Regions from separate parts of the Homo sapiens genome. Here region 2 is reported to be linked to region 1. Evidence: microRNA targets listed by miRTarBase, many of them from high-throughput screens and not tested one by one. Region 1 holds a microRNA gene; the other region holds the end of a gene's coding sequence.

Region 1 (3,306 bases):
CCATTTGTGCTTATGAGTCATATCTTTGGTGAAATATCTATTAAAATATTTTACCATTAAATTAGGTTGTTTTAAGTTACTTTAATGTGTGTTTTGCACACCAGTTTACAAAGAATGCAGATCCATTTTTTTTGCATGTGGCTATACAGCCGTCAGCATTATTTGTTGAAAAAACGATTCCCAGTTGAATTGTCTTGTCATGGTTGAAAATCAGTTGACCCATGTATGGGTTTATTTCTAGACTTTAAATTCTATTATATTGAGCCGTATGTTTTTTATTACGTTTTGTAATTTTAAAAATTAGTGCTTTTGGTTACTAAATCACTACAAAATAAATTTAGTCCCTATCTTAAAAGATAATCTTCGTAGTAGCTACCTCCTAAATATGAAGTCTGTAAATTAAAGGGTAATAATACAGTTTAGATTACTTGGGTTTATTAAAGATTTTGGACTCTGCCTTCAATCCACATATTACCTTTCTATCTAAAGGAAAGGATCCTGACCCTGAATCAGATCCAGGTGATTATCTTTGATTTAGTCCTAATAAGACCACTTAGTGTTTGCTCGCATGGGATAAATGAGTAGGTTCCTTTAAAAATTAGTTTCTATTTGTGTGTGTTTTTTATATTATCTCGTTGTATGTTAGTGCATTTGGATTATGCATGATGTACAGGACTTTTGGGTTTTGAAGTCATTGGATTTTTAATTAGAGGCTGTCATGTTTTTCTGTAATGATTTTTTGTTGTTTCTTGAAGGATAAGTTATTTCATGCATTTTCATTTGTAGGAACTGTAAGAAAACCAGCAGTTAATAATAGTAAAAGGTGGTGGTAAGAGGGTGATTTCTGAATCTTGTAAATACATGGTTTTAGGAGCGGATTCAGATAACCAAGCATTTAAAATACTATTAATGAAATACAGGAAATGAAACCACAGCATAGATTATGCATGTAGCCAAAATGTTCAGTTAAACTTCATTTTCAACGTAAGTGAATGAAAATGGTCTAATACTATTTTTCTTATCACTCACACAGGAAACCAGGATTACCGAGGAGGAAAAAAAGCCTTCCTGTGGTGCTCAACTGTGATTCCTTTTCACCATTCACCCTGGATGTTCTCTTCACTGTGGGATGAGGTAGTAGGTTGTATAGTTTTAGGGTCACACCCACCACTGGGAGATAACTATACAATCTACTGTCTTTCCTAACGTGATAGAAAAGTCTGCATCCAGGCGGTCTGATAGAAAGTCAGTTAACTAATTGTACAATATTTAAGATTAACTTGTCTTAAAGAGATGTAGTGCAGCATTTGTTTATGGCCTGGAAATAAATTAATTTAGAGATAAAGTCTGTAGCAAGTACACTGGATGGGGGTGGGGAAACCTTTTGCTTCTTGTCTTATTTCTCTGTGTCAGAATAAATGTATTTTTTTATTTTGATTTATGCTGATAATTTTATGTTGAAATTTTCTTTCGAAAGAGATTGTACTTTCCATTCCAGAAGAAAACATTGCTCTATCAGAGTGAGGTAGTAGATTGTATAGTTGTGGGGTAGTGATTTTACCCTGTTCAGGAGATAACTATACAATCTATTGCCTTCCCTGAGGAGTAGACTTGCTGCATTATTTTCTTTTTATTTAGATGATATTAAAACTCAGAAGAATTAATTTTGACATTTTGTATTTACAGTTTATCAGTTAATTTTCTCTGTTCAAGTAGTACAGTAGGCACAGATTAACATTTAAATTTTTCACATATGGTATATTTCAGAAATTTGAAGTTAAGCAAAAATTTTAATGAGTAGAGAAAGTAAGTAGCCTTCAGGAAATCTTCATAGAGGACCAGGCCCTTTTGGAATTGTGAATAGGTTTATTGCCTTACATCCTGGTACACATGTCCAAGGTCAGGTCCTGGGTGGTAAAGGTAAATACAAATTGGAAGGGCACTGTGTGAGCCAAAATGAGTCAGATTAGTCATGATTCATTTCCAGTTTGGGTTTTGGGTGGTCTTGGAGAATGTTGTAAGCACTGCTTCATTGATAGGTTGATTGAGCCAGACTTTACTCAGCAGCCTGGAAAAGGAGAGATGGGCTCTGGGTTCTACCTTTGCTCACTGGTAAGTTGCTAAGATTTCAGCTTTGCCCTCAAACCCTGAAGTAGTCCTTCATTCACACAGTGGGATCACTCGAAAATGTCAGATGGGGAAGTCCATAGGTTGTTACTTTAAAGAAAATAGAAAAAATGCTGGAAAAGGTTTCTTCAATTTTAATACCCATGAAGGCCCATGTTTTAGCTTTCCTCCGATGGGCAAACCATACACTAACTTGGGCCTTGTAATCAACAAGCAAGGCTAAAAGCTCTCTAAGTGCTTGCTGTTTAAACTATTTTGTGTTGGAAGAAGAGTTGGAAAAGAGGCAGTGTGGAGGTGAGGGAGAAGTTCCCTCCCTCCAATCATTTCCAATAAATGGAAATTTAAGGAGAAATTTGTGTTTATCCTTAATATCTAAGATAATCACTGTGCAGTGCCATTGGTACTTTTCATGAGAGTAGAAACATCAAACTTCCTTGGATGGGCCCAACCCAGGTGACTTAACTCTGGACCAAATGTATGCTTTTTGTTTTATCCACTGTGGACAGCTGCATAGATAATTGGTCTTTGTTCTAAACTGCACATAAAAACATGGGAGAAAATGACATTTGTTGCCTTTTGATGTGCCAAAGAAGAGTGGGAATGTTCTAAGAATTCTTTTTGGCTTAATCTTTGTTGAATTGAAAATATGTATAACTCTTCTGCTGAAAGTGTAGCAAGTACAGTCATGAAATTTTGTGGTCTTCCTGACATGTTCTTCCAGCATAACGTTGCCACCTTCAGTTGGAAACGTATCCTTATCTAATAATTAAGCCCTGGAGAAAAATTAATTTATATATTTTATTAATTACATAAGGACATTGTTATTAGCTAAGCAGAGTAAGTAAATCGAAATAAAACTTTAAAAATGCCTTTATGGAGAGAATGACTATCTCTGAAAGCTTGTTTTTAATGATGATAAAATTCATGATCAGAATTTGTTTCTGTTTGCTTTAATTCAGGGGTCAAAAACTGAAATACCATCAGAGGCCCAGGAGGGGCTAGTTGTAACTGGCAAATATAGTAAATTAATTTGCTCTGGTTGATAGGTAGCAAGCAGGGTTTATATACATTGTCACCTACTTTTCCAGTTAACAGGAGAGACTGGAGATTTTATGAAATTTGATATTTAAATGTTGGTAACTGGGTTGGGCACCATGGCTCACACCTCTAATCCCAGCA
Region 2 (3,306 bases), not on the chromosome of region 1:
GACTTTTCTTTCCTTAGTTTGGAAACATGGAATTCTGTTTTTGGTGGTTACCTTAGTCTCTGTGTTTTTAGTTTGGAAATTCACTTATGCTCATAAATACTTGCTAGCAGACAATAGACATTATACTTTCTATGTGTGGAAAAGAGTTTTTCAAAGATATGCAATTCTGAAATATTTGTTAGTTCCAGCCTATATATTTGCTGGTTGGAGTATAGCTGACTCATTGAAATCAAAGCCAATTTTTTGGAATTTAATGTTTTTCATATGCTTGTTCATTGTTATAGTTCCTCAGAAACTGCTGGAATTTCGTTACTTCATTTTACCTTATGTCATTTATAGGCTTAACATAACTCTGCCTCCCACATCCAGACTTGTTTGTGAACTGAGTTGCTATGCAATTGTTAATTTCATAACTTTTTACATCTTTCTGAACAAGACTTTTCAGTGGCCAAATAGTCAGGACATTCAAAGGTTTATGTGGTAATATCAGTGATATTTTGAACTGTAAAAATGGACTTAATAATTAGACCATTTCTACAAAGAACAACTGAATAGGTGGAAAACATGGAATTTCTTTTAGGTGCAGTGGTGGTCCTCAAATTACATTAGTTTTTTTAATATATATTTTAAACATATGTAAGAAATTAAGTGGCAAAGAACTGGGAAAGCTTAAGACCTGCTTCAAAAGCCTGAATAATGGGAAAATAAAATTGTTTTCAGATATCTCATATCGCTCTCGTAATGTTGGCCCCTCACAAAGCTTGGGAATGTTTTGTATGTATAAGTTTATTAAAACTGGGTATGCTTCATATTACTAGAACTAATTTATTCTCTTCAGAGAGAACTATTAGGTTAGTGCAAAAGTAATTGTGGTTTTTGCCATTGAAAGTAATGGCAAAACCACAATTACTTTTGTACCAACCTAATAACAATGTGTTAGCAAATATTTACAAATGGTCAGGTGATATTCTTGACTGAAAAGTTCCTTAACATTTCAGTAAATATAATTTTAATTCTAAGTCAAAATAGAAATGCATAGATAGTAAATGATAAAGTAGAGACTCATATATGTCTGTCTAGGCATCAAATTGTTGGTTATTGTTTACAATCCAGAAATGATGAAGCTCTTTCACTAATTCCTAATATGAAATGTATGATGGCCAAAGACAAATTGTGTTGATTATAATCCTTTAAAAGGGGGATTTCCTTTATGAAATACATATTGTATTAGCTTCCCAGGGCTGCCATAACAAATGACCACAAACTTGGGTGCTTACAACAATTTTCCTCACAGTCTGGAGGCCAGAAGTCTAAAATCAAAGTGTCAGCAGAGTTGGTTCCTTCTGGAGGCTCTAAGGAAGAATCCATTCTATGTCTGTTTCCTAATATCTTGTGGCTGTCTGCAATTCTTGGAGTTCTTTGGCTTATGGGCATATCTTGTCTAAGTATTGCAGACAGCAATCTTCACTCCAGTCTCTGCCTCTGCGTTCACACGGCCTTTCCCTCTGTCTTTTCATTACCTTTTAAGGACAGTGTCTTTGAATGTAGGGCCCACCCTGATCTAGGGTGATTGTGTCTGGAGACCCTTAATTATGTTTACAAAGACCCATGTTCCAAGTAAGTTTGTATTCACATGTTCTGAGTAGACATTGTCTCTTCATGGGATACTTTTCAGTCCATGACAGTTACTAAAGGACATTTTAGGATAATCCTCATATGATTGTTAGGAGACTACCTTTAAAAATTTTTTATTATATATCAAATTATAGTTGTATATACTTATGAGGTACGAAGTGGCATTATGATTTTTGAATATAATGTGGGATGATTAAATAAAGCTAATCTATCCATCACCTCAAATATTTGACATATTTTGTGATGAAAACATTTGAAATGTACTCTCAACAGTATTGAAATGTACATACAGTGCTTAATTATTAGCTGTATTCACCATGTTGTGTAATAGATCTAAAAAAAGTCAAACATATTCCTTCTATCTAATTGAGGCTTTGTATCTTTTGATTGTCATCTCCCTATTCCCACATCCCCGGCCTCTAGCAACCATCATTCTTCTCTCTACTTCTGTGAGTTTAATTGTTTTAGATTACACAAATAAGTGAGATCATGTGGTATTTGTCTTTCTGTGCTTGGCTTATTTCACTTACCATAATGTCCTCCACGATCATCCATATTGTTGCAAATGACACAATTTCTTCCTTTTTAAAGGCTGAATAGTATTTTTTTGTATATATATGCCACATTTTCTTTATCCATTCATCCATGGATGGACACTTAGGTTGATCGAATCACTTGGTTATTGTGACTTGTCTGCAATGAACATAGAGTGCAGACTTCTCTTTGACATACGGATTTCAAATCTTCTGGATAAATAGCCAGAAGTGGGATTGTTGGATCAGGAGATAATATCTTAGCTGATACCTTTTAAATAACTCTCAGTATCTTTACTGAGAGGTTAAAAAATAAGTGACTTCTTAGGTAATATAAAGCTAAAGGTGACTAGTGTTTGATTCCATTATCTATTAAAAAAAGTCAGAATTGAAAGAAAGTTGAGAAATCCTTTGGTCTGACTTTGTAGATTAGGGAACAACTGCTGGGGTAGGATTATTTTGTGTTACTTTTTGAATTTTGTGTTTATTATTTTGAGTGTATTTTTTGGGTTGTCATTCCATTACAGGAAAGTATTATTTGGGCATGTTAACTTTGACATGTAAACTTAGAATTGTGAATAGAACTCATCTTTTAACATAATTTTATGTTTCTAAACTTTAAAAGTAGCTATAAGTGAACAAATTACTTTCCCCTCAATGTCAAATTTTGCTTCTCTGAGTTTTAAGTGATGAGTCTACATTTACAAATATAAAATTGTGTGCAGGTGAAAATTACAAGTATAATTTGAGTAATAAATGCAGGCCATTTTTTGGTTGTACTCTAGTACTCAGAAAATAGATCGGCATTAGTTATAACAGTGATTGTAGAAAAACGTGTTTTACCCAGACTTCTTAAAAATTAGATGAGAGAGGACACTCAAAGAAATTATACTTTTGTCATTAATTTACTATAGTGGAGAACTAAATCTGGGAAGTCAAAATTGAAAAAAGAATGTGTAATTTAGGGAAAGTAACTTTTTGTCTGATAATATTAATGCAAGGATTTTGTATTTAGGAATACTTCTGAGAGGAGAAGCTTCCACTCTGATCTAGTCTGGCAAAATTGAGGAAAATATTCTACCCTGTAATTAAAGAAGACTGCTCTTTGGAGGGATCACTGTTCTATATCTTTTTTTGT

Evidence for each region. Region 1 holds the annotated microRNA hsa-let-7f-1-3p (CUAUACAAUCUAUUGCCUUCCC, at 1,578-1,599, shown strand). A microRNA usually pairs through its seed, bases 2 to 8, with sites in the 3' UTR of a target mRNA and lowers its output. Matches are read on the target gene's strand: a 7mer-m8 pairs with bases 2 to 8, a 7mer-A1 pairs with bases 2 to 7 and ends in A, and an 8mer does both.
Region 2: miRTarBase lists ALG10B as a target of hsa-let-7f-1-3p. Seed matches in the 3' UTR shown: 7mer-A1 at 778-784, 7mer-m8 at 1,770-1,776 and 7mer-m8 at 2,243-2,249.

The regions. Positions count from the first base shown.
Region 1 is chr9:94,174,832-94,178,137 of GRCh38, forward strand. MIRLET7F1 (microRNA let-7f-1) reads left to right here and starts at 1,516; the gene lies at 1,516-1,602. It overlaps MIRLET7A1HG (miRlet-7a-1/let-7f-1/let-7d cluster host gene), which reads left to right. Exons shown (of 5, transcript NR_170278.1): 2 at 1,034-1,134. It overlaps MIRLET7A1 (microRNA let-7a-1), which reads left to right and starts at 1,126; the gene lies at 1,126-1,205. LINC02603 (long intergenic non-protein coding RNA 2603) reads right to left here. Exons shown (of 3, transcript NR_160773.1): 3 at 1,738-2,900.
Region 2 is chr12:38,320,730-38,324,035 of GRCh38, forward strand. ALG10B (ALG10 alpha-1,2-glucosyltransferase B) reads left to right here. Exons shown (of 3, transcript NM_001013620.4): 3 at 1-3,306. The coding sequence ends at 484. Among named protein-coding and RNA genes, the nearest start is that of ALG10B, 5.6 kb to the left of the region's middle.